Homo sapiens: one gene and its partners. The protein of the gene in region 4 interacts with the protein of the main gene of each other region in a pairwise test. Each region holds a gene or a part of one and is shown on either strand. Other genes may lie near its edges. The genes, in order: MARK1, PLEKHA3, MEIS3 and TCL1B.

What was found.
Region 1: the proteins of TCL1B (region 4) and MARK1 interact in binary tests that used the Homo sapiens proteins (3 or more experiments, as listed by UniProt).
Region 2: the proteins of TCL1B (region 4) and PLEKHA3 interact in binary tests that used the Homo sapiens proteins (3 or more experiments, as listed by UniProt).
Region 3: the proteins of TCL1B (region 4) and MEIS3 interact in binary tests that used the Homo sapiens proteins (3 or more experiments, as listed by UniProt).

The regions. Positions count from the first base shown.
Region 1 is NC_000001.11:220,657,130-220,664,157, forward strand, and holds part of MARK1 (serine/threonine-protein kinase MARK1), read left to right. Parts: intron 1-660; coding exon 661-705; intron 706-4,682; coding exon 4,683-5,037; 3' UTR 5,038-7,028. UniProt on the Homo sapiens protein: Serine/threonine-protein kinase. Involved in cell polarity and microtubule dynamics regulation. Phosphorylates DCX, MAP2 and MAP4. Phosphorylates the microtubule-associated protein MAPT/TAU.
Region 2 is NC_000002.12:178,497,437-178,504,464, forward strand, and holds part of PLEKHA3 (pleckstrin homology domain-containing family A member 3), read left to right. Parts: intron 1-1,774; coding exon 1,775-1,818; intron 1,819-3,624; coding exon 3,625-3,740; intron 3,741-6,323; coding exon 6,324-6,451; 3' UTR 6,452-7,028. UniProt on the Homo sapiens protein: Plays a role in regulation of vesicular cargo transport from the trans-Golgi network (TGN) to the plasma membrane.
Region 3 is NC_000019.10:47,402,604-47,409,535, reverse strand, and holds the end of MEIS3 (homeobox protein Meis3), read left to right. Parts: coding exon 1-100; intron 101-288; coding exon 289-437; intron 438-1,900; coding exon of another isoform or gene 1,901-2,107; coding exon 2,108-2,184; intron 2,185-2,398; coding exon 2,399-2,457; intron 2,458-2,564; coding exon 2,565-2,648; intron 2,649-3,009; coding exon 3,010-3,059; 3' UTR 3,060-3,076; exon of another isoform or gene 3,077-4,108; intron 4,109-5,982; coding exon of another isoform or gene 5,983-6,122; 3' UTR 6,123-6,412; downstream 6,413-6,932. UniProt on the Homo sapiens protein: Transcriptional regulator which directly modulates PDPK1 expression, thus promoting survival of pancreatic beta-cells. Also regulates expression of NDFIP1, BNIP3, and CCNG1.
Region 4 is NC_000014.9:95,682,400-95,689,432, reverse strand, and holds the start of TCL1B (T-cell leukemia/lymphoma protein 1B), read right to left. Parts: upstream 3,008-7,033; 5' UTR 2,966-3,007; coding exon 2,804-2,965; intron 1-2,803. UniProt on the Homo sapiens protein: Enhances the phosphorylation and activation of AKT1 and AKT2.

The DNA of each region.
Region 1 (7,028 bases), on a different chromosome or scaffold from region 4:
CTTCAAAAATATTAATTACATGCAACACAGAACAATTAGTAGTGTTTTCCTGGTTTTATTTCGCAGGTGGATATCCAGGTAAGGTCAGTGTTTTTATTTAAGATTGAATCCGTGTTTTTAGACTTGCCTACATGGATAGGCTGTTAATTTGCTGTGATATTTTATCATGTGCATGAATTGTTAGCATAACTTCTAAAAGAAATTGCTTATTTGGAAATTGGTGTTTATTTGCTAACTACAAGGTTAATGTATATATTTTCTAAATTGAGCGACTACTAGAATTATACATAATTACAAATTTGAAGTTGAATCTTGCTATTGATAATTATTAAATAGTTTTAACTTTAGATTAAACTAAACCAAAAGATAAATTATGACTTCAAATGAATCATGGCTGGGAATTGGAAGATTATGAAAAAAAAATTTCAAACTTTCACCTCATATTGCCTCTTGACAAAAATGAGTAGACGCTCAATAAATGATAAATTACATGCGGTTATGGTGAAAAATATGAGAAATAGTCTCAGACTGACTAGTAATAGAAAACTGTCATGGTAGAAGTTTGCTCAACAAGCTAATTTTAAAATAATTTTAGATATAGGTTTTCTTGATATATTTTTTACTTTTATCATTAAATCTCAACCTTCACTTTGTTTTGAGGGATCCAAGTGAAGGCGAAGCCAGTGGCAGAACCGACACCTCAAGGTGAGGAGCCACTATTAATACTTCGCTGCTAGGTCCCTGTGTATGAAAACGTACTTTTGAAATACTTACAGCACTTAATGATCATGAATAGATCTAATAACTAGATAGCATGCGTATTTTAGATTTTTATATTGGGGTGGGTTTTCATAATGTTACCTAGCATTCAAGTCAGTCAACTTTAAGTTTGTTTTCCAAACATGCATTTGAATTGTGTACTTGGTATAGAAATAGGCTTTCTGTTCTATAAAGTATGTCAAGCTAAAGAATTAATAGATTAAATGTACTGATATTTTTCTCACTAAAGTAATGTAACTAAAATTAGTCTGAGTCAAATAGCACAAATAACACAGAACAGGGAGATAATTACATGTAGGAAGATTTGATATTAGTAATATATTTTAGGTGATAATTCAGTGTTTGACCACATTTAAAAATTCTATCCAGGCATACTTTTGGGGATTTCTTTTTTTGACATTTCATGCTAGTTGTATATTCATTCTGGCAATGGGTTTCATACTTGAGCACAATCAGAATTACAGGGAAGGCTTGATAAAAAGGTTGCTGGATCCCACTCCCAGGGTTTCTGATTCAGGGGCCGAGGCAGGTGCCTGTGCATTTGCATTTCTATCAAGTCCCCAGGAGATGCTTATGCTGCTGTTCTAGGGACCACATTATGGACATGTTAGTACTTGTGTTCATATTTTACAAACGGGAAATTTAAGAAATGAAGACATTAATTTATTTTGAGTGTACCCAAGCATTAAGGGATGCAATGTAAATTTTACAACCAACAAGTATTCCACAGTATGAAAGGCTCTGGCTTCATTCAGGAACGATTGTGACCAGCTGAACACAAACCTCCAATTTGATTTCTACTTTTCAAGTTACTTAAAATATAAAACATAATTAACTTTGGAAAACTATAGCATTCCCATGTAGTCTTTTTAACAAACTGTGCTATATTTACATTTAGTAATAATAGTTGAAATGTTTCTTTGTAGAGTTAGGTACCTGAGTCACCACAGTAGGGAGCCACAGGGGAGCAAGACAAATATTCTTCACTTTCTTCTGCCTTTTATAGAAACATGGAGGACTTGTTCTTAGCCTCTCCCTCACTTAGTCTTCACTTTTGAGCCCCTCCTTGCATTTCATCCTATATTTCCACTAAATTTCCCTCTGAGACATTTAGTAGTGTGTGGCATTGCAAGTGGCCCTTAATAGTTGCATTTTTGTCCTTTTAATGTAACTATATAATTTTATTACATTATAAGAATTAGTAACTGATATTTTATAAATGTTTACACAATACTTTTCACATTCCCTTTTGTTTGGTTGTTGTTGGGTTTGGTTCTATTTTTGCTTTTGAACTGACTTATTGAATACTAACTATAAAGTACTTTCTGATCATTTAATTTTCACAACAACTAGGTGAAAATGCCTATTTTACAGATGAAAAAAAACAGCAAGGAACATAGGTGGGATCAAGCCAGCTATAATAAGGTTCTGTCATTTCAGGGAGATGAGGTGATACTGTGGTTAGAAGTATAGGTTCTCAGCCAGAGTGCATGGGTTTCAGCTATGTTCCACCACTTACCTTACTGTGTGGCTTTGGGGAAGTTACTTCAACTCTGCGTGCCTCCATTTCCTCACTCTAACTGCCTCATAGGGTTGTTCTGAGGGGTAAATGAGTAATTAATACATTTTAGGCACTTAGGACAATTCCTGCACCTAGTAAGTACTCAATAAATGTTAGCTGTTATTATATTAATATCCACATTTCCAGGAGCTTTCTACAATGGACATTATCAGTGGTAATGTCTGTGAGACCATGCAGAAAAATATTTCATTGTCTTAAGGTCATCTTAAGGTGGAATAGAAGGAAACTAGACTTAGAATAATATCCCTAAATTCTAGTCTTCACTTTTCAACTCATTAGCTCTATAACTTCAGAAAACTAATTTTTTTTTTTCTTCTGAGACAAAGTTTTGCTCTGTTGCCTAGGCTGGAGTGCAGTGGCACGATCTCAGCTCACTGCAACCTCCACCTCCCAGGTTCAAGCAATTCTGCCTCAGCCTCCCAAGTAGCTGGGATTACAGGCGCTTGCCACCACACCTGGCTAATTTTTGTATTTTTAGTAGAGACGAGGTTTCACCATGGTGGCCAGGCTGGTCTCAAACTCCTGAGCTCATGGTCCTGCCACCTTGGCCTCCCAAAGTGCTGAGATTACAGGTGTGAGCCACAGAAAACTAATTTTAAGTTTTCCAGCCATCAGTTCCATCTTTAAAATGAGTGCTCAGTCAACTGATCTCTCAGGACCCTTCCAGGATGCCGATTCCACCAGAATTATACATGTGACCTTGGTAAATGACTCTGGTTGGCTTGCAAGCCCTAAGAGGCCTGTGATGCAATGGCTTAGATTCAGTGGGCAAAAAGAGAAAAATAGAGAACACGATGAAGTAAATACTTTCCATACTTATTAATGGTCTTTGGAAATTTATTTTCTCTACGTATTCCTTTCCTTATTTTCTCAAGATTGCATAGTTTGCAGAGCTTTGGGGACTCAGATACCTAGGCTCAGACACCTGGAAATGAAGTAGATAATATATATAAAATTACACATGAATATATATCATACTATTGATACAAAATGTATATATATTAATTTAAAAGATGTATGCAGTAGATTATAAACTCCTTTCAAGGGACTTTTTTTTTCTTAAATCACATAAGTGAGATAGGTTAACAAGTTGCAATTATAACATCTCTATTTGGATAATTGTTCAAGAAATTTAATTACAGGATTTTCTGTATCACGAATAATCTATTAACTTTGATGAAGCTATGAAGGTTTCTTTCTATGACTGTTTGAAATAGGCTTTTTGTTTCCATATTACTTGGGGGATGCCTGCAATAAGTAAAATTCAGTGAGATTTAGTCATTTAACAAATATGTTAATTATTACTATGTACCCAGCACAGTTCTAGATGCCCGAGATATATCAGTGAATGAAATAGACAAAATTCCTTGCCCTCCTGGAGTTTACAGTCTAATGGTAGATTCAGACAACACCCTAACAAATGGGTTAAATAATATGTTAGAATGTGTAAGTGCTATCAAGAAAAATAAAGCAGGCTAAGGGGGCTTGGCCATGCTAGGATAGGAGTTAGGGTACAATATGAGCAAAGATTTGAAAAAAGCAAAGGAGTTAGCGTCGCAGCCATCTGGGGAGAAGCATTCATGACAGAGGGAACAGTCTGTGCAACAGCCTTGTGGCAAGAACATAACCCGTGTGTTCAAGGAGCAGCATGGAGGCCATTGTGTTCTGATAGGAGTGAGGAAGGAGAAAAATTCTAGGAAATGGGATTGGGGGTAGTAGGAGTTGGAATGGAAGTCATGGGGAACGTTGTAGACTGTTTTAAGGATGTCTTTAGTGAAATGAGAAGTCACTGGAGGACATTGAGATGTGTGGTATAATCTAACATCTTTACCTAATTGCAGTACAACATTCTTTCTCAACCTTACCAGGTAAACGAATTATCTTTCCCTCTGAAGTTACGACATTCCTCCTATCCAAAAAGGCAGAAAAAAGAAATTTTTTATATTTCAAAAATGTATATTTACAAATAGAATATTAGTGGTTCCTATTTTGTGTGTGTGCTTGAACAGAGAAATATGGAACTGAAGAAGGTATTAAGTTCTTCACTTTCAGTTGCAGACTTGTTTCCCTCAAACCACTTATATTTAAGAAAAATGCTATTTTAGATTGACAATATTAAAAGTCAAAACAGATGGCATCTTGGGGTGTGTTTCTGTAACAGCAAGATAACATAAATCTTTGCGTCCATCTGAGGGTGGTCTGCAAATTAGGTAGTGTTATTAGGCACTGAACTATGACCACTTAGATTTTATGTGTGTTTTGATCTCTTTGCTGAGTGAAATATTTGCTTTCATTCTTTCCCTTTGCCCTCTTGTTCCAGAAGTACATCAGGGGAACCAAAAGAAAGAGACAAGGAAGAGGGTAAAGATTCTAAGCCGCGTTCTTTGCGGTTCACATGGAGTATGAAGACCACTAGTTCAATGGACCCTAATGACATGATGAGAGAAATCCGAAAAGTGTTAGATGCAAATAACTGTGATTATGAGCAAAAAGAGAGATTTTTGCTTTTCTGTGTCCATGGAGACGCTAGACAGGATAGCCTCGTGCAGTGGGAGATGGAAGTCTGCAAGTTGCCACGACTGTCACTTAATGGGGTTCGCTTCAAGCGAATATCTGGGACATCTATTGCCTTTAAGAACATTGCATCAAAAATAGCAAATGAGCTTAAGCTGTAAAGAAGTCCAAATTTACAGGTTCAGGGAAGATACATACATATATGAGGTACAGTTTTTGAATGTACTGGTAATGCCTAATGTGGTCTGCCTGTGAATCTCCCCATGTAGAATTTGCCCTTAATGCAATAAGGTTATACATAGTTATGAACTGTAAAATTAAAGTCAGTATGAACTATAATAAATATCTGTAGCTTAAAAAGTAGGTTCACATGTACAGGTAAGTATATTGTGTATTTCTGTTCATTTTCTGTTCATAGAGTTGTATAATAAAACATGATTGCTTAAAAACTTGTATAGTTGTCTAGATTTCTGCACCTGAATGTATGTTTGATGCTTTGATTTGAAAATGTTCTTCCCTGTTATTTACATTCTGGTGGGTTTTTAAAATTCTTACCTCCATCATGCAATTTTGAAAATTGTGTCCAGAATTAAAAGTGCATAGAAATAGCCTTTACAATTGTAGCATGGACCTTTAAAAATTGTTTTAAAATCTTATTTAAATTTAAACCAGAAGCTGAAAAATAGATCAGCTTTATTATACACAAAATTATTACTGCTTATCTTTGCTCTTTTCCTTGTTATCCCGCAAGGTTTAGTTGAGAAGATACAAAATGTTTACAGTGTTGGCACTTAGAGTTTTTAAATTCAAGTACATGAAATTCAGTAATAGCATTGCCTTGAGCTAACTAGGAAGTACCGGGAAAAAAGTTAAATCTACATCAAGTTTCTTTTGAACTTTGAAGTGTTTTCTGACCCACTGCTAACTGTAGCAACAAAATTTAAAAGAAAAAAAACATACTTTATCTGGCTATTATAACATAAACTGTCACGTAGGTTTGCTGCCTTCAGAATACCGCAATTTAATTGCGGGAATATAATAATATTGGGACTGTTTCACAGCACAAACTCATCTTTACAGTGTTGATCAATGCATCAGTTAAGAAATAATGCCACCTCAGGAATTAACTGGCATTGGGAACATTTGCCTCATTCTCCTGCTATCCTCTTCATTCACCCCTGCCACTGTAATATCTATAAGTACTTAAGAGACTTGTGAGCAAAACATACTATTTATAACAGTATATGATTGATTTATGCTTATGTGGTTGTTCAGTTTGTTCCCATGTAACTCGTTTGTTTTAAATATTTTGCCAGATTTCTTGTATTTATTCCACATCATTATGCCTATAATGTGCCGCTTTGTGATTGGGCATTTGCCTACTTTTCTTTCATAATTAGTGATATATGCGATGTAAAACCACTAGTAAAGGTACATTTTAATACTTGTTATTTTATACTGAATTAGCCTTGGAGGTTGACTGTGCAATGTTATTTACTGTTGTAATTACTGTAATACCAACATATGGGCCCCATCTGCACACTCCTGAAAAACAGAAAGTGTATTCAAATTTTATCAGTTTAAAGAAAATAAAGCTGTGATAAATACTGTAATTCCAACCTACATTAGAAGGTCTAAGTGTAGGTGATGTGCCATTCCATAATGGCTTCCAGACTAGGGTGAATTTTATGTTCTGTACTGTACTGTGATGTAGCTTTCTTCTGTAACAGTTATGTTTTAAAATTAAGTGAGTTTTTTTTTTGCCTTAGCAAAGGGTGGTGTTTGAAAAAAAAAATGTGTAGCCCCTTTTTAACCTAGTGTTCATTCAAAAAAAAATTGATGCAAATCTTTATTCACTTTCACTGGTGCACACTGAAATTTTACTTGAACAGTTCTCATAATAAAGCACTTGTCTTTTGCTCTTTATCAGAATGTGAATTACCTGTTTTCTGGTACAAAAGTATTCTGTATGAGGAGTTTATTGTATGTGTTCTAAATTTAGTTGGCAAAGGGTGAAGCTGTGAAGGTTTTCAAGATTATTGAAACTATGAAGGTTTCTTGTCATTATGACAAGAAAGTTTAATCTTTTTATAGGAATTCCTGTCACTGAAATACGTTTTTAAAAAAATAGACTCATGTGTTTTCCACGGTA
Region 2 (7,028 bases), on a different chromosome or scaffold from region 4:
AGCCAGGATGGTCTCGATCTCCTGACCTCGTGATCTGCCCGCCTTAGTCTTCCAAAGTGTTGGGATTACAGGCGTGAGACACTGCGCCTGGCCCATTTTATGTATTTTTTAATACCATCTTACAGGACTGTGGTGTGGTGTTGAGTAAAACATAGTTTGACAATGTTGCTTTTTAGGACAATTGTAGATATGCTATAAACTGTTAATTAACAAGTATGTGTGAACAAAGAAACCAGTGTTTTGAGATGGATGTGTAGTGCTGTGTTCCTGAGGTTGATAGACAAAGGGTACACTTTTTTTTTTTAAGCTGTACTTTTTAGAGTCAAATGCAGTAAAACACCTCAGAGTTGCCTTGCTTCTGCATTGAACTTCTCAGGAAATCCCTTATGTTACAAATGCTCTGTAGTCCAGAGAAGTCAATGCGTATTTTACATATAAGAAACTAAAATAATTATTAGTTCTAGAGACAAATAGCATGGAAAGTAAGGTCAGACAATCTTCATGTTTTTTTTTTAAATAACATTGTTTATTTATTTATATGAAAAACTTACATTTATTTATATGAAAAATAAAGCTGAAAATTTGAGTATTCCAAAACAATTTAATCTGATCTTTGTAAGTGCTTTAATCTGATCTTTATAAGCACTTTATATAGTTAATCTCAATGAATTCATCTTAGAGTAAACTTGCATTTAACTTTATTTCAAGTTGTCATAAAAGTTCAGACAACCATCACTGGACCTACAGATTGAGTGATTATTATAGTGGGGATGTCCTTGGGTTAGTAAGCCTAAAGGAAGTAATTTCTGTTAAAGGAGATGTTAGTGGCCATTTGCATCTTAATGTCAATCTTATCAGATGTTCCCAGACTACAAACTGGGTGGGTCATATCTCTTAGCATTTCAACTGGTATTTCTCAGAGCAACTAGTGGCTCATGTTCCAAATATAGAAGGCATTTGCATAACATCAATGTTAGACCTGGGCTTGTTAGACTCTTGGGCTCATGTATACAAAAGCAACCACCCTAAACCTTTAGTATAATCTTTGTTTTTCTGCTACCATGTTAAACTTTGAAATAATCAGTTTTACTTGGCTGCCTCCCTTTATATTTTGATGGAGTAGTTGGATCTTCCAAATTATGTTTAGTATTTATCATATTTTTTAAATGTTCTGCTTAATTAGGTATTCTTTATTTTTTTAAATATATGTTTTGGAAATCCACTGAGACTTAGGGTTCTTCTTCTGAGTTCTTTAAAGTCTTGAATTATTAATGCTGTTTTCCATGAAAACCACACTTTAGAACATTTGTATATCAGCTACCTAAATAATTAATGATAAAGAGAAGCTTTGCTGCCAGACTCTACTACTGTCCTTTAAAAAAGAGATATTTATTAGAATATTTTGTGGCTTGCTAGATACTCCTTTTTTATCACATTTATATCTTATTTATAGTTATATACCCTGTTTTTTATATTTGTATACACACACATATATATGTATTATGTATAAAATTTGGTTTTCACTTTTGAAAAAAGAATCCAGCATGTTTTTGGTGTGTGTTGAAAAAGATTCCAATTAATGGTTATTAGGGAGAAAGCTTGATGTTGTACTAATTATGTTGCTTGAGTCTGTGAAAGATTAAATTTTTTTTTGCCAGTTATCTTTTTCTCTGAGTAAATTTATGTTTATTATGATAATAGTAAATTAGAGCTGCATGATTCTACTTGACATATGGATTATGCTAATTTTTTTTTTTTTTTCCAAAATTTCTAGATGAAGCGTTCTGTCAGCCACCCTGGTTCTTGCAGTTCAGAGAGGTAAAAGAACCTTTTCTTCTGACTAAGTTCTCTCAAATTATATCCATCTAGGGAAGTTCTTTGGGCCTTTAACAAGTGGTGTGGAATGTAAACTCTGTATGGGTTAGGTCTGGTTCAAAACCAGCATTTTATCTCTCAGTATTTATCTCCTAGTATTTAGTATAAGGGCCTGGCCTCAGTAGGTAGTCAGTAAAGAAAAAAATGAATGAATTAACCAGCAAGGTAAGCACGTTGCCAGCCATTTTACCTTTTTTAGATGTTTGAAATGCAGTCATATATTGAAGAATGACTTTTCCATCAATGATAGACTGCATATGTGACAGTGGCCTCATAAGATTATAATACCATATTTTTACTGTACTTTTTCCATGTTTAGGTATGTTTAGATACACAAATACCATTGTTACAGTCACCCACAACATTCAGTACAGTAACATGCAGTAGAAGTTTGTAGCCTAAGAACAATAGGCTATACCACATAGCCTACATGTGTAGTAGGCTATACTAGCTAGTTTTGTGTAAGCACGCTCTGTGATGTTTGCACAGTGACAGAATCACCTAGCGATGGATTTCTCAGAATGCATCCTTGTCATTAAGAGACGCATGACTGTATATCAAGTGATGGTTAGACAGAAGTACATTTTTGATGTGTTGAGACTCCACAGCTAGGGCTCATTTTACCTCAGCTGTTTATAGCATCATCTATTCATGCTGAGCTGTTGTTTCATTAAGAGAGAAAGATCTTGCTGAAGAGAGAAAACCACTTGATATTTTAAAGTACATATTCATATCAATACGTTTAAAAATTTTACCTTCTGGATAGATCTTACCAAAATGCTAAGTTGTTAAACTATTATTTTGTTAGGTAATAGTCCTTTAAGTTGCTATGGTTGTCTTATTTAGTTCTTTGGAAAGTGATTTAATTATAGTGACATTGGCATTTATTTCTCTATATTTGGACTGTTAAATGCTGTTTTGTCATGTTTTAATTTTTTCCCCTGATGATTGTATAATCTTTGATTAAACTGTCAAATACTCAGAGGAATCCAATGATGTATATATCCAACCTTGTCAGGGAATCAAGAGTCCCACCAACTGAATTTTCCAGAAAAATGGAAGCTTAATCAATTTTTGACCAACTTTTATTTTTATGAAAGAAATTTTTCTATCCTTTCTACCTCATAAAATAATAATTTTAAAATCTTATTTGTTTCCTGATGAATCAAGGTTGTCATTAAGTACAGTAAAGTTGGGCTGTTACAAAAATAGTAGCTGAGATGCTGTTAGGTGGTGGTGATTTGCTTCTCTGTTTAAATTTTTCAGACAGATTTTTAAAAGAGTTTTTCTAGGCCCCTTTTTGCCATCTTTATCTTCTCTTGCTGTTGTCAGTGAGTCTACCTCTAGCTCTATGAACTCCTTGCCCATCTCTTTCAGTCTGCTGGTTTTGATCAGATATGGATTGACTTAAAATACATGCATTCATGAAACCTATGACTTCTAGTTTTCAAACATTTGTAAACCGACTGATATGTCTGCTCTCTGGAGTCTCCCCTACAGAAGTCACTACTTCTTCATTGTACCCCTCTTCCTTTTAGTTCAGCTCAGAAGCCATATTCTCCAGGTTACCAGCTGTCTTCTAAATGGGTTCACTTGTTTTTGACTTCTGAGTAGAATGTTGCTAACACGGGACGTTGAGCATAAAAATAATTCTTTTTTCACTTAAAGAGAAGTCATTTAAAATTCCAGTTGAGTGTGTTTTTGTTTATGTAAGGCCTTACAATTTAATGCTTTTTACTTAATTTGCAGGAGTAGCCACTCTATAAAAGAACCAGTATCTACACTTCACCGACTCTCCCAGCGACGCCGAAGAACCTACTCAGATACAGATTCTTGTAGTGATATTCCTCTTGAAGACCCAGATAGTAAGTGACATAGATTCTGTCTCTTTCTTTGGCATATTCAGCAAAATTACTGTGGGGCTCTGTAATTTCTGGAAATGAAGTATACTGACTGAACATTGTACTTTGTTTCTTTGATTCCTTAATTCAGAGGTAAGCAAACAGCGCTCAATCAATGAAAGCTCATATATCCCCTTACAAACAGGTTTGTTACTAACTAAGGAGTGCTGAGGATTGCTTTGTAAATATCGTATCTCAGATATATATTTATAGAATATCATGATCTTTTACCACCACTAGGACTTAAAAAACATTTTAGAAGAAGGCATGAATTGTTAGCAGGATTCTAGGGGAAAATAAAGGCAAGTTCCAAGTTCATATAAAAGTCAGCATTGTTACTTTACTAAAATACCTAGAAATGGCTAAGGAAAAGAATTTTGTCTGGTAGTCACAGTGAATTATAGTAGCATTCATTCCTCTACCTTTTTCTTCCTTATTAAAGAGGCAGCATACTGTGATTGAATGTTTTTAGGAAAGGTTTTGTGATTTATGTTAAAATTTTTAAATTTTTCTCTTCAGAGAAGAAGCTTTGAAAGTGTGTCAGAATATCTAGTAAGATAGTAGTGACCATGATTTGCAGTGAACACAAATATAGTCTTATTATTACATCTCCATTAATAGACTTATACTCTCCAAGTCTCTACTATTTCTCAGGAAGCATGTGGGATAGAAACTATGTACAATTTCCAATTAAGGAACAGGTCGTGTTCCAATAGTTAGTTCATTTGTAAGTCAGTTGTTTGGAAAACAGATTTTATTTTTCTTGTGGAAATGACATGATAAGTGGTGGTTAGCTCTTTGGATAGCTAACCATTCTTTGGAAGAGCCCAGTGAATTCATAGTATGGCTGAAATGGGACAAAACAATGGTGTATTTCTAGCATTTGAGTGTATTGAAAACACTGATTAAGCTGGAGTTGTTTTATGTAACCAGAAAGTTAAACAGGTTTAGTTCATACATATGGCAATTTTAAAAAGGATTGCTGGTCATTTTTGGATTTTTAGGAGTTGATAGAATCTTTTTTTTTTTTTAATGCCCACTTTTTTTTTAAACTGAATTAATCATCTATTTATTAATATATGGCACTATTCTATGCTCATTAACATTTTGAATTTAAATTGAGATGTGGGTGGAGAAATGAAGGAAAGAAACCGGGAAGGGGAAGGGAGAAAGAAACTTTCTTGGGCCAATCAAGCAAGACCTGGAAGAGAAGAGGAGGAGAGGAGGAGGGTTAAAGAGGTTGAGTATGTGAAAAAAGTTATCTGAGGCAGGTAAGATAGACTCTGATTCTCTTTATTCTTTATGCCTTTTACACATGACTCTTAATCCAGAGTTCATGAAGGAGTTCTGTATGCTACCTTGTAGTTTTAAGTGCGACATCTTTTTTTTTTTTTAAGGGGATCATTTGTGATTACTAAAATAATTTTTTTAAAGCCATCCATTTTTCTTTAGAATTCTTTTCTTCTAGTTACTCTAGTCCTGAATATTTGAAAACAATTTTCAAAAGATCTAGGTGTACATGCTCTATTATATTTAGCATCCCCCAGTTTAACTGTTATGGACTGTAACAAAACTAGTCTCACACACACACACACGCACGCACACACACACACGCGCATACATATAGTTCACTTCTCTAGAACATCTTTAAATTAGCAAGTATAGACTAGGTCAGAAATTTTATCCTTAGATTTTTTCCTGTTTATACTAGTTTAGTGTTTCAATTAGCTGACAAAGCAAAGATTGAATTAGTGCTCTTTCCAGAAAGTATATATTTTGCAATTGGCAGTCTTAGTTGAAAGTTGTTACTCAAAAATATTCTTCTTGTGAGATGCAACTGCTTCTATTTTCTTTAACAAGCTTTTTCAAAAAGTATGAAAGTAATAAATGATGATGGTAAACTCAAACTATATATATAAAGGTACAACTGCCTTAGAACAGGACTATGCCAGTGTAGTCAGCTGTGTTAACATGGAGTTGCAGTGATAGTTCTGTGAGCTGCATTACAAATGGAGAAATGGGATCTTTCAGTATGAGGTACCTTGTCAGCTTTGCTCAGAAAGTCTTAGAATGAAAAGAGGAATACCTGAATTTAGTCCTCGTTCTGTTACCAATTGTGTGATCTTGGGTAAGGCATGTATCCTTTTATGGGTCTTGGTTTCTTTGCCTAGGAACAAGGAGGATATTAACAGCATTAAAATAGGCTGAAAAAGCAATAGTTAATTAATAAAGATTAAATTCAATTCAGCAAATATTTATTGACTACCTATTATGTGCCAACCATGATTCTAGCAGTGAACAAAACAAAAATCTCTACTTCAGGCAATTTCATCATTTATCTTATGAATTCTGATGTTTCTCCTTGTGGCTGTTGATACTCTAGTCTAAAAGTTAAGTTTTCCTGCATGAAACAAACAAGGAAATACAAAATTAGCCAGAAGCTAAAGGAATTTCATGTCCCTGAACAGGAAATTTAAAATGTTCTTTCACAGAGGACTGGAGTTAATATTGACAGGATGTTTAACGTTTTTATCAATGTCTTCATAGGACCTGTTCACTGTTCAAAAAATACACTTAATGGAGATTTGGCATCAGCAACCATTCCTGAAGAAAGCAGACTTATGGCCAAAAAACAATCTGAATCAGAAGATACTCTTCCATCCTTCTCTTCCTGAAGAAACTGAAGTGTCCAACTTCCTCTAAGTATTGCTATGCAAAAGCTGCTGTAATTAAACTATTGTTATAGGGAGTAGTTTTTTCCCTTAGGACTCTGCACTTTATAGAATGTTGTAAAACAGACAAACAAGAAAACAAACCACATACTTTTGAAGTGTATTTTATCTTTATATAGTTTGTTTGCAAGAGTATTTTCCTAATAACTTCACAGTATGAATGTGCATCTTTTTTTTTTGAACAAATGATGGTGTAACATTTTGACATCCATAAGGACAAATGTAGATATTTTTCTTAAAAACTCTGAGGGGACTGACAGCATGGTCAGGGTGTATTGTAGCTTATAAACATGAAATCTTATAAGGTTTCAGTTTGACAGAAGTGTGATATATGTAACTTGTGCCATGGACCAAATGGTCACTTTACCACAGCTAAAAATGAGTTACGATAGCAGCTTGATGGTGATTGTATTGTATTCCTTTAATCAAAAAGGAAACACAATATTCTAAGTATCTTTAGCCCAAATACCATGACATATTGAGCATCTTTAAATAACCAGACTGTATTGTCCTTCATATG
Region 3 (6,932 bases), on a different chromosome or scaffold from region 4:
ATTCGAGACCATGAGGATAGTGGGTCTGTACATTTGGGGACCCCAGGTCCATCCAGTGGGGGCCTGGCCTCCCAGAGTGGGGACAACTCCAGTGACCAAGGTGAGAATCTTGGGAGGTGGAAGGGAAACATGGGAGTCAACCAGAGGATTGAAGTTAGATCGCAAGTAAGACTTGTAGAGGGGCAGAGATGGCTGGGGTGTGGAGTGTTGTCTTGGGGGAGAGTTCTGGGGCCCTCTGGTCCTCCACTCTTCACTACCCACACACACAGCATGCCTGCCTTCCCTCAGGAGACGGGCTGGACACCAGCGTGGCCTCTCCCAGTTCTGGTGGAGAAGATGAGGACTTGGACCAGGAGCGACGGCGAAACAAGAAGAGGGGGATCTTCCCCAAGGTGGCCACCAACATCATGCGAGCCTGGTTGTTCCAGCACCTCTCGGTGAGAGCCCTGCTGCCCAGGTGCAGGGTGGGAATGGAGAGAGGGAGAAGGGTGGACCACAGAGACCGAAACCCCAGAGAAACCCAGAAGTGGGAGAAAGACGGCAGGAAATTTTTCGAGACTCTCATGGAGGTGGAGAATTGTGACAGGAGCCAGCAGCACTGAGTGTCACCTGAGTGCAGGTGCCGCTCAGGACACTTAACTCACTAAGTCCTCCCCGAAAACTGTCCATTAACCCGCGCATCAATCATCCACCTGCCCACCATCCACCCAGTGTACCCTCGGAGGGAGGGGCTACTATTATCTCCATTTAACAGGTGAGGAGGAGACTGAGGAACAGAGAGGTTAGGAGACTTGCCTAAGGTCACACAGCCAGAAGTGGATTCAAATGCAGGCAGTCTGGCCTTAACCACCGCACCATACTGCTTCAAGGACAGAGGAGAAAAATAGAGCCAGGAAGAGGCTAAAACAGAGAGACACAGAGATTCGGGGAGGACCAAGTCAGAGCAAGATGGAGACAGGGAGAGGCCGAGTCACAGAGGGACAGAGACAGACAGAAACTCGGAGGCAGGGACGGACTGAATCCCAGAGAGAGAGAGAGATACAGACAGAAACACACACACACAGAGATAGTGAGTCAGAGAGAGAATGTGAGAGCCACAAAGAGAGAAATGGAGGGCCAGACACAGTGGCTCATGCCTGTAATCCCAGCACTTTCGGAGGCCATGGCAGGAGGATCACTTGAGCCCAGGAGTTCGAGACCAGCCTGGGCAACATAGCAAGACCCCATCTCTAAAAAAAAAAATTAGCCAGGCATGGTGGCACACACCTGTGATCCCAGCTACTCAGGAGGCTGAGGCCGGAGGATTGCTTGAGCCAGGGAGATTGAGGCTGCAGTGAGCCATGAAGGCGCCACTGCACTCCAGCCTGAGTGACAGAGTGAGACCCTGTTTAAAAAAAAGAGAGAAAGAGAAAGAAAGAAATGGATAGGGAGGGCTGGGTGCGGTGGCTTATGCCTGTAATCCCAACACTTTGGGAGGCCGAGGCGGGCGGATCACGAGGTCAGGAGATCGAGACCATCCTGGCCAACATGGTAAAACCCTATCTCTACTAAAATACAAAAAATTAGTCGGGCATGGTGGCGCGCACCTGTAGTCCCAGCTACTGGGGAGGCTGAGGCGGGGAATCCCTTGAACCCCGGAGGCGGAGTTTGCGGTGAGCAGAGATCGCGCCACTGCATTCCAGCCTGGCGACAGAGCAAGACTCCATCTCAAATAAATAAATAAATAAATGGATAGGGAGAGGGCCACACAGAGACTCTGACAGATTCAGAGAGGGAGGGCCTGGGCTTTGCTTCCCTCCCCGACGCCAGTGAAGCCCCTCCCCCACGCCACAGGAGCCCCCTCCCCCAACACAGTCTCTCTAATCAGAGCTGGCCAGTTAACCTCTAATTGCTGGAACAGGCGGGGGCTGGCAGGCATGTAATTGCCCCAAGCCTGAGGCTCCCTTGGTCTCCATCCTGGGGAGCGCAGAGACGCTCAGAAGCGCCGGTTCTCCCAGACGTCTGCCTGGGCCTGGGCTCCCCATCCCCCGGACCCCGGTGGGCCAGACCTTGGGGTTCAGACTGCGGCCGGCCAGGCAGGCAGAGTGACTCTTGCTGGTGGCTGCAGCACCCGTACCCCTCGGAGGAGCAGAAGAAACAGCTGGCGCAGGACACGGGGCTCACCATCCTGCAAGTCAACAACTGGTGAGTGGCCCAGGAGGGCCCGCGGGCCGGCCCGGGGCGAGAGCCCGGGCGCTGTCCGCGGTGCTGACGGAGGCCCCGAGCCCCGCAGAGCCACTGCCCCTGCTCGCCCCGCTCTGCCTCCCCCGCCGCTGTCCTCCGGCCCGCTCTGTGTTCGTCTTGGCCTCTCTCCCACTCCCTCTTTTCATTCCCCTCCGTTTCCATGACCGCCTCCCAGGTTCATTAACGCCCGGAGACGCATCGTGCAACCTATGATCGATCAATCCAACCGCACAGGTACAGGGGGAAGGCGGGGACGGAGAGCCTGGGGTTCTTAGGAGGGCGTCAAAGCCGGGTCCCGGGCTTCCTGGGGCTCAGCCTGCACCTCTGAACCCCCTTCGCAGGGCAGGGTGCAGCCTTCAGCCCAGAGGGCCAGCCCATCGGGGGCTATACCGAGACGCAGCCACACGTGGCCGTCCGGCCTCCGGGTAAGCCTCGCCCCCTTAGCTAGGCCCCGCCCCTGCGCACCATGACCCACCTGTAAAACAAAGATGCCCACCTGAGATTCAATTCAAGCGGAATACAGTGTGTCACTTGCCTAGTGAGAAGCAGGTGATGCCAAGGCAGATTTCCTGGTCCCCCATCTTTTCCTTACAACCTCATTTCTTCCAGACTTCAAGCCCAATACCTCGGAAGGCTCCACTTTTTCTTAAAGGGCCAGCACCTTCTTATGACTCAGTCTATCCTGGTAGAGGGATCCCCTGGTGTAGGAAGGGGTGAGGGAGACTTAGAGGCATCTGGGGGTGTCTCTGAAAGACGCACTTACCCTCCTTTTTTTTTGTCTTCCAGGATCAGTGGGGATGAGTTTGAACTTGGAAGGAGAATGGCATTATCTATAGAGGCTGATGCAGGAGAGGTGTGAGGGTCTAAGGGCTGGGGATTGTGCAATTCTCAAACCTCCATTAGACCTCAGGACTCCAAGAGTGGGCACTTCCAGAGTAGTGGGTCAGCCTGGGTCCCTGTACTGTGGGTTCTCTGAGGCTTGATGGGAAGATATTCATCCATCTGTCCGTCCGTCCATCCATCCATCCATCCATCCATCCTCCTCCTCCATGTATCCATCCATCTACCCACTCACTCACCCATCCATATCTTTATCCATCCGTTACTCAATTACTCATTCACCCGCAATCCATCCATCCAAACCTAGTCCACCCACCTACCCACTCATTACCCATCTGACCACACATTCACCCACTCACTCCATTCATCTCTCCACTCGCCAACCCACTCATCCATCTACCTCCACACTGACCAACCACCCACACATCTACCCATTTATCTGTGCATTCACCCACCTCCCTACCCAGGCTTCCACCCACCTACCCATCAACTCACCCATCCATCCACCCACACATCCCATTATCCATATATCCACCCACCCACCACCCACTATCCATCCATCCATCCATACCTACATACACCCATTCATCTATGATACATCTCCAAACATAAACTGAGCCCTTGGCTGGGCACGGTAGCTCACGCCTGTAATCCCAGCACTTTAGGAGGCTGAGGCAGGTGGATCACCTGAGGTCAGAAGTTCGAGACCAGCCTGGCCAACATGGTAAAACCCTGTCTCTACTAAAAATACAAAAATTAGCCAGGTGTGGTGGCATGTACCCATAGTCCCAGCTACTCTGGAGGCTGAGGCAGGAGAATCACTTGAACCCAGGAGGCGGAGGTTACAGTGAGCCAAGATCAACCTGGGCAATAAAGTGAGACTCCATCTAAAAAAAAAAAAAAAAAAAAATTGAGCCCTCACTCCATCCTGACATGCCTCAGGTAGGGTCTGGATCTTGAGAAGATTCTGGTCTTGTGGGGAAGTTGGCAACCCCAGTGACAATCCAGTGTAACAGTTCAAACAATAAAACGTAGTTTCCCCATAGGAGGGAGTCATCAGCTATCTCTGGGGTATCAGGGAAGATTTCCTAGAGGAAGTGGCCTCTGGATGGGGCACTGAAGGATGAATAGGAGTCCACTGGGCAGAGTAGGGAGTAATGTGGAAGGGGGGCATTATTTGACTTTCCCAGGCCTTGAGTCTTCTGTGGCCTGGTATGATGGCGGCACTTTAGAGCATCTTCTCATTTAGTCCTTACAACGATCCCGAAAGGGGAGACTATTAACAATTTTAATTTCATAGATAAGAAGACTGAGGTTCAGAGAGAAGAGGTCACTTGCACAGGTCTACCCTGCTCACAAAAGCAGAGGGAACAGCATGTGCAAAGGCCCAGGGTAGGGAGGCAGCCTAGAGTTTCCAAAGCCCAGATCAGAGTTTGACTCTCTCTGGATTAAACCATTTGTGGCTCCCTAGTGCCATCTGGACAAAGTCCTAACTCCTTAGTTTAGCATCCATCTGTCCATCCATCCCCTGAGCCCCTCTGTGCCCAGCCCTGTGCTGGGTAATGTTGGGGACACAACAGTGACCATGACAGCCTCAGCCCTGCCCTCATGGGGCACAAAGTCTAGTGAAGGGGACAGACCCATCCCCAGATGGTGATGCCCCAGAACGGGCAGGGCTGGGATGGTGAAGCCAAGGAACTGGAGGAGCTCACAGGGGGCGGGTGTTGGACCTGGGATGGGGGGAGGTGTTTAGAGAGGGCTTCCTGGAGGAGGGGGCATCTGACCCAGACTAGAGGATTCAAGGAGGGCTGCCTGGAGGAGAGGACTTTGGAGGTGAGACCAGCAGAATGGGAGGAGTGAAGCAGGAGAGGAGCATCTGCAGAGGGAATAGCACGTGCCAAGGCCAGGAGAGCTTGGAAATCTCGTGGCTGTGAGACAGCCCCAGCCCCCTACACACAAGGAGGAAGTTCTCTTTGGACTGGGTTGAGGCAGGCGGCCGGACAGGTGGCTAATGAATTCAGGGCCAGCAGAAAAGCCCTGGGGATGAGAGTGGAGGCCTGCACAGGGCTTATGCATGGAGGCGGGTGCTGGAGGCCGAGCCTGGGAGAGAGATGGGCAGGCGTATCCAGGCCAGGTAGGGCAGTGGGCGACTCAGCTCTTTCATGGCCAAGTGTGGGTAGGGATGGTCTGGGGTGAGTGTCAGGGGACCTTTGGGGTCAGTAGTGATGGAGGGGTCTTCTCATCCCACTGCCTGGCTGCCCAGTGGGCTCTTTTCTCTGCTCCTTTCTGTCTCCTTTTCTGTCTCTCCACTCCTGATCATGGCTCACTGTAGCCTCGACCTCCCCAGGTTAAGCGATCCTCTGGCCTCAGCCTCCCAAGTGGCTGAGACTACAGGCGTGCGCCACCATACCTGGCTAATTTTTATTTTTATTTTTGTAGAGACGGGTCTCGCTTTGTTCCCCAGGCTGGTCTCGAACTCCTGGGCTCAAGCGATCCCCCTGCCTCTGCCTCCCAAAGTGTTGGGGTTACAGGCATGAGTCACCGCGCCCAGCCTCCTGTCTCTCTTTCTCTCTCTCCATTTCGTCTATTTCTTCATGACTTCTTCTCTCTCTTCCCATGTCGTTCTCTCTGACTCCCTCCAGGTCTGTCTCTGTCCTACTCTGCCTGTCTCTCTCCTTGTTCTCTGTCTCTGTCTGTAGGTCTCTCCCTCCCTCACCTCCACTCTGATTCTCTGTCTCCCTCTTTCTCGTCACTGCGTCTCTTCTCTCTGTGACCCTCCCACATCCCTGTGCCATTCCCCGCCAGCCACTCTCTCTGTGTCCCCCTCACATTGGGGCTGATGAGGCCTGCACAGATGGGCTGGGGTGGGGCCAGGCCCCCTGCCCGCTCCTGACTTGGCCTCTCCTCCCCTCTCCACAGACCCAGCCTCCGGCTGTGACCCCCAGCCTCACACCTGCCTCTGGTTCCCGCCTGGTCCTCCAGCTTCAGGACCCCACCTCCAAAGGCCCCTCTGCTCAATGCCTACCTCCCTAGGGCCCTGCTGGGACATGGGGGCCTGAGTGCCCATCCAAGGGCTCTCAAGGACACCGGCAAGGCCTCCAGGCCCTGAGCCCCACTTCTGCCTTCACCTCTGCCTGGGACCCGAGCTGGGCTCCTGGGCCTTGGTCCCCAGAAGATGGCGGCTAGGGCCTCGCCGCCAGGACAGAGAAGGGACGGGGTGGCTGGGCAGTCAGGGAAGGAGGGTCGCCCGGATCCGACATTTTGGAGAGATTCCTTCACTCTCCTGTCCCCCCTACCTCCCTTCTCTAATTTCTTCTTTTTTTTAATGATAAAGTCTTAAAAACACGGAGCCACCAACTGGAGTTCTTGTGTCTATCCCAAGATTTCAAATTCTTACCAATTTGAAGCTCGTAAATCACGAATAAGAATACTGATTGGCCGGCTGCAAGCACGATGGCTCACGCCTATAATCCCAACCCTTTGGGAGGCCAAGGCGAGTGGATCACTTAAGGCCAGGAGTTCAAGACCAGCCTGGCAACATAGTGAGACCCCATCTCTACGAAGCAAGCAAACGAATTGCTTGGGCATGGTGGTGCACGCCTGCAGTTTCAGCTACTTGGGAGCCTCCCAGAGTGCTGGGATTACAAACGAGCCACCAGGCCTGGCCAAGACTCCACCTCTTAACTAGAGGGAGCTGCAGAATTCCTGCAAGAGATGTGTGTGCAGGGGAGAATGAAGACTCAGGGCCACGCCTGCGTCACTTCACCAGCTGTGGCTGTCCAATCACGTCCTCTGTCCCATGGGAAATGAGCAGGTTAGGCAGGCACACCCTCACTTCCAAGGCTTCCGGACGGACGTGGGTTTGAATC
Region 4 (7,033 bases):
AAGAAAGAAGGGGAAAAAATACTTACTAAGTAGGTCCCTTATCCCACCCGTGGCTAAGTTATTTGAAGAATCCATTCTATTTCCACTGAATCATTTAAAAAAAAAAAAAATCTTAACTGTTTTTTTTGTTTTGCTTTGTTTTGTTTGAGACGGAGTCTTGCTCTGTCGCCCAGGCTGGAGTGCAGTGGCTGGATCTCAGCTCACTGCAAGCTCTGCCTCCCAGGTTCAAGCCATTCTCCTGCCTCAGCCCCCCGAGTAGCTGGGACTACAGACGCCTGCCACCGCACCCGGCTAATTTTTTTGTATTTTTAGTAGAGACGGGGTTTCACCGTGTTAGCCAGGATGGTCTCGATCTCCTGACCTTGTGATCCGCCCGCCTCGGCCCCCCAAAGTGCTGGGATTACAGGCGTGAGCCACCGCACCCGGCCAACTGTTTTTAAGAGTACAGTTTGGTGGCATTAAGTGCATTGACATGTGGAACCGTCGGCACTATCCACCTCCAGAACTTTTTATCTTCCCAAACTGAGACTCCGTACCTGTTACTAACATTAACTTCCCATCCTCGACTCCCTCCAGCCCCTGGCAGCTACCATTCCACTTTATGAATGAGACCACTCTGAGTACCTCATACAAGAGAATCTGTCCTTCCGTGACTGGCATATTTCATTTAGTATAATGGCTCCAAGTTTCATCCGTGTGTCTGACTTTTAAGGGTGAATACTTCATGGTTTGTGTTGTTTACCCATTCATCTATCAATGGACACTGGGGCTGCCACCACCTTTTGGCTAGTATGAATGATACTGCTGTGAACATGGATGTATGAATACATGCTTAAGTTCCGGCTTCAGAGTCTTGTGGGTATATATCCAGAAGCGGCATTGCTGGATTATGCCGTAATTCTTTCTTTGAGAAATCCTCATCCTGTTTTCCATAGTGGCTGCACCATTTTACAGTGCCCTCCATTAACACTTTTTCAGGCTTTTGAAAAACTTAAAATATTTGCTCCACAATTTTTGCATGCTTTATTTAGTGTATGTACAGAAAAGCCTTTCCATGTTCTCTACCAACATTTTTTGAAATAACCTATTTGAACTTTTTTTAGGAAATGTGTTATATTGTTTAAAGTGTCAGTGAACTGGCTGGGCGAGGTGGCTCACCTGTAATCCCAGCACTTTGGGAGGCCAAGGTGGGCAGATCACTTGAGGTCAGGAGTTCAAAACCAGCCTGGCCCACATGATTAAACTTTGTCTCTCCTGAAAATAACAAAAAAAATTAACTGTAAAAAAAAATCGCCTGTAATCCAAGCTACTCGGGAGGCTGAGGCATGAGAATCACTTGAGCCTGGGAGGTGGAGGTTGCAGTGAGCCAACATCACACCAGTGCACTCCAGCCGCAACAGAGCAAGACTTTCTCAAAAAACAAACAAACAGGCAGTGAATTGTTTACGAAGACCTAAACGGCATTTTTTTTTTTTTTTTTTGGGACGGAGTCTCACTCTGTCACCCAGGCTGGAGTGCAGTGGTGCGATCTCGGCTCACTACAAGCTTCGCCTCCCGGGTTCACGCCATTCTCCTGCCTCAGCCTCCCGAGTAGCTGGGACTACAGGCGTCCACCACCACGCCCGGCTAATTTTTTGTATTTTTAGTAGAGACGGGGTTTCCCCATGTTGGCTAGGATGGTCTCGATCTCCTGATCTCGTGATAAGCCCATCTCGGCCTCCCAAAGTGCTGGGATTACAGGCGTGAGCCACCGCGCCCAGCCCTAAATGGCATTTTAAATATCCGGATATGCTTTTACCACATTACACTAAGGTACAGCCAGCCCCCCATTTCCATGGATACTGCACCCATGAATTCGACTAACCTCAGATTAAAAATATTTTGGGAAAAAAAGAAATTCCACAAAGTTCCCAAAAGCAGAGCTTGAAGTGATGTGTAGGTGTAGCATTAGGTGTTATTAGTAATCTGATTTCAAATATAGTAGAGGATGCGCTGAGGTTATATGTAATTACTACCCAGGTCATTTTCTATCAGGGACTTGAGCATCCACAGTCGGTCCTGGAATCAATTCCCCACCGCCACCCACACCAGAAACGCTACTGTATTTACTTCATCCCTCAAAGACTGGCTGTGATCTAAAGCCCTCATCTACAGCCGTTTCCTGAGTCATTATCATTATCACCTGGGGAGCTTTTGAAAAGTAAAGAATCTAGGACTCCACCCAAGCCTCCTGAATTAATTTCCAGAATCTGTTATCAGTCAAATGCTTCCCCAGGCCATTCAGGCGGTGAGCCATGTATGTGAGCATGTCTGTGACTAGCTTGCCACAGAGGTATATTATTCTCATTTTGCAGATCAGTAATCTGACACCAATGTCATGTTCATCCTGTTGGCCCACCTGGTGCCTCCAGGCTGCAATGCTTTTGCTTATACTACTCCTGCCTCCTTTCTAGACCTGGAGAACTCCTACTCATCCCACAAAGCCCAGCTCAATAGCTGCCCCATTTGTGGGCCTTCCCAGCAGGCACTGGGAATGGCACTAAGCCCTGAGCTACCTTAGCCTCGGCTTCACCACGCAGGACCACATTATCTCATGTGGATAAGCTTGTGCCTGTGGTCCCTTTACGGGGGGTGTTCCTGGGGCCAGGGCTGGGCATGGACATTGCTGCGCTCCTAGACCTGCACAGAAGTGAGTTTTCCAGTGCGGGTGAGAACGGCCCCCTCTGACCCCCACCGCGGTCCCACACGGGCAGGGGTCAGTGCGCAGCCCTCCCCACAGCCTCCCCTCGTGCCCAGGACTCACTCTGCTGCCCTGGGAGGCCCTGGCCCATTCCCTACGCGAGGGATTGAACCGCACGACCACAGTCACCCAGGTTCTCCCCTCCTCATCTTCGTAGATGCCAGGCCTCTGGATCCACAGACGGCCAGGGGGCACCCCTAGACGCACAGAAGCTTCGGAGGCCATGGCAAGTCTGCAACCGGGACCCGCCTCTAGGCTCACACGTGTAGCTTTCCAGCTGCGCAATCTCCTTAAATGGAGCAGCTCCGGCGTGGGTGGGGCCCGGGCCGGCAGTGGGGGCGGGGCCGGCAGTGGGGGCGGGGCCAGTCGGGGGAGGAGGGGGAGGAGGAGGAAGGGGGAGGAGGGAGGAGGGAGGAGGGAGGAGGAGGAGGGGGGAAAAAAGCAACCTGCAGCAGGGGCTAGGCAGGGACGAGGCCAAAGAGCAGCGGAGTTAGGAACCCGGCCTGGGTCTCCTGGAGGGGCTGTGGCTGGACCGGCAGCTGCTGGAGGCAAAAGGGCGGCTCCCGGGGATAGAGCTGCCCAGGCTTCACCCCAGGCCTCTGCAAGGAATTTGGCTCCTAAGACCTATTCCACCTCCCTTCCACTGGTCCCAGTCCCTCCGCAGCCTCCTCCCTGAGCACCCCTGCCCAATTTTCTGTCAGGTGATTCCCCTCCTTTGCTCCCCACGACCCCCTGCCAACCATCCTGCCCCAGATCCTGAGCTGGCATGCACGACCCTGGTCTCTCCTATCCCTGTGGCCATTCCTTTAACAGGACTCTGTGTCAGGGACCCTTCTCTGAGCTTAGAGCTTAGAGGCATGGGGGGCGGGGGGCGCTGTAACCTCAGTGGACTCTTGCCCCTGGAGGTATCTGGTGAAGGCGCATCCTGCACAAATCAAGCTCCCTCTCCTTAGAAAATAAGCCAGTGCACTATCAGCATCTGAGCTCAGGATCAGATAAAGCCCACAGAAACAAGGCCACCGGAGGCCACGTGGCCACCTGGCCAGCCCATCCTTGGCCATGGGGCCCAGAGTGCCCACTTGGCCTGGTCGTCTTACTTGCTCGACTTTGTCAAGAGGCCTCAGAAGCTCAAGAACATAGCAAGAAGCAGGTCCGTTCTATAAGCACCCTGGGCTGCTTCTAAATGCACCATGAATAGGAACCTTTTCCTTTTGAAAACCACAAGCATGATTCTTCTAGTTCAAGTGAAGATTAGTATTGAGATGATGCCATTCTGCTGGGGAGATGTGAAAATGATTTCTGGACAGTCCTGATCCAGTGTAAATGGCAGGTAGGATAACCACTTTTGAAGAACTCCCTGGGCAGCTTCTGTGGAGGACTGAGTCTTGTTTTCACAGCAATTCCACCTCCATCCCCAGTGTTTTTCCAAGGAACCAACACTTGGGGTGGGAATGGAGTGGGCCAGGAAGACAAGGGACATCACAGTCTCATATAATGTGATCCATACATGGAATCACGTACGTGTGTCACCTTTGCCATATTCCATTGGTCAGGGGTAGGTCCTATCCTTACTCAAGGTTATGAATACCAGGAGGCAGGGATCATGGGGACCCCTGGTCTCCTGGGCCCCCCTGAAGCCTGTTTGCTGTAGGTACCTACCCTATGGGACTCCTCTGAGGATCAGATGAGGCTGTGTGTATAGTGTTAAAGCCTGACACATAGTGAATACTTGAAATACCCTGGTCAATAGTTATGTTCTCAGACTAGTTCCCTCTCCCAGGCAGAATCCATCATTCCTACCCTTGTAACCCCAATGCAATTGCTATTTATCTCTATCATTTTCTGTTGCAAATATATATTTTGATATTCTCAACCTCACTCCCTGATGGGCAGGTGTGTGGCTGTCAGTGGGGTTGGAGGTAAAGGTTGCCTAATATGTGGGGAGCCCCTATGCCATGTCAGGCATTTTTCATAGGGTATCTCACTAACACCTCCCAACAACTCCATAAACTAGAGACCGTCACCCCCATTTCATAGATGAAGTATCAGAGGCTTGAGTGGCTTAGCAACCTGAATGAAGTGGGTAGCAGAGGAAGGATATGGACCCAGCTGTTCCTGGCTCTAACATGCATGCTGCTTGTTGACTGCCTTGGCCAAGTTTGGCTCATTACATGGAAGAGGCAGAACCTGGAGTAGGGAGATCCACAGTGGCTACTGTAGAAATGGTGGTGGGGTCTGAAGATGGAGACTGAGAACACCTTGCCATGAGTGGGTGGTCAGAAGGTAAGCAGAGGTCTCCATAGGCAGAAAGAAATAACTACCAGTTAGCCTCAAGGTGGAAAATAGATTGCTTCACCGATCACCCTCTTTGGCCAGGTCTCCCATCCCTCAACCCTTGGACCTGGTATGAAAAAAGCCACGGAGCTGCAGGTGACAACAGTTTGGTTCCTGGTCCTTCAGCTGGTCTTTGTCCATGTCATGTCTGAGATAAGTGAGATAAGGCTATGTCTTCTGGCCAAGTTGTCCATCTCTGGTACCTGTGACCTGAAGGATTCACTCTCCGGGGTAGGTGTCACCAATGTCTTTGAGAACCACTTTGATCTCTCCAGAATTGCTCCCAGGATTGCCTGGTACTGATGGTGCACTCATGCCTGGGCCCAATGCTCTCCTCCTCCAGCAGAGGGAGCCCTTCACAAGCCCCAAGCCCTGGGGACGTTGAGGCTGGACACCCACTTGCCGGAAGGATTCCAGACCACAAACAAGGAGGCGCTGTGCAGGGCTTGGAAGGCTGGGTAAGAGTCACTGATACCTCTGCACATTTCTGTTCAGCTCCTCCTAGGTACTGGGCCAAAATGGCAGGGCAGACAAGATGCCAAAGGCAGACAGCCTAGACAGGGCATGGTTTAGATGGAACTGGCAAAGTTGTCCCACCGAGTAAGCAGCATGAGTAGACCTGGAGGAGAGGTAATTCAGGGTGTGTCTGGAGATCAGGAATAATGAGGATTATCCAAGCTCATATGATAAAGAATAAGAATGTGGTGGTGGTGGGGGCAGGGGTGGTATTGATGCTCCATTGTAAGCATCAAACACGCCAGTCCCAGCAGCTGGTTTTGAATGATGAGCAATGAGTGTTTGAGACAAGGAGTGACATAAGTATGCACTTAATGTTAGAACTAATGATAAAACCAAAGAGTGGCTTAGTATCAAGTAGATCATGACTACTAGAGAAAAGACTGGATGGGGATTGTGCAGATAATAACAAAAACAAGAACATCCAAGTTCCAGCTCTGCTTATTTCAGACAGTGAGCAGAGCAAACTTGCAAAGTGGTAAAAGAAAGTCAACCCAACCACGGAACTGAAGAATGAGGGTTTAGGAAAGTTTTGCTTATGTACACTATTTTCTTCTAAAGATTTTATTTAGATTAATTTTTCCATGTTGATATCCAATTAATGCCAATTATTTAAAAGACTATGCTTTGTCTACTGTACGGTATTATCACTTCTGTCATAAATCTGGGAACATTTATGTATGAGTCTGTTTCTGGACACTTTTCTATTCCATTAGTCTGTTTGTCTCTCCTTGTGTTGATACCACATTGCTAATTACTATAGCTTTAAAATAGGTCTTTATATCTTATTGTAAGATTCTGTTTCTCTGGAGAACCCTAATATAGCTATTCTCTTCCCTTTACATATCCATATGCATTTTAAAATCAGCTTGTTAATCCTCCCCACCTCCAAAAGCCTGCTAAGATTGATTGGGATTGTGTTGAATCTATAGGTATATTTGAAGAGAATTAACATCTCCAACATATTAAGACTTACGATCCGAAGCAATTGCATAGTGTATCCTTCCATATTTTGGGTTGTCTTTAACTGTTCTCTCTGATTTCATTAAATTAACTCTTAAGTATTTGATTGATGCTATTTTAAATGTCATTTCAAATTATGTATTATGTTTGTTGCTGTTATAAAAAAATGCAACTGGTTTGTGTGCATTGACACTATATCTAAGACCTAGATAAATTGACTTAACTCTAATAGTTTATCCACTATTTGAGGAAATGTCTTAGCCATTGTATCTTCAACTATTCCCGTCTCATCCTTTCTTTTCCTCCCTTTCCCTCTCTTTCAGTGACTCCAATTACACATTGTCAGACCCTTTAAACAAGTGTACCGTGCTCTCTATGCTCTGTTCTTGTTTTGTTTCCTTTTTTTTCCTCTCTGAGCTTCAATGTTGATGTTTTCTATTAGTTTATCTTCCAGTTCACTAATGCTGACATCTGCTATAA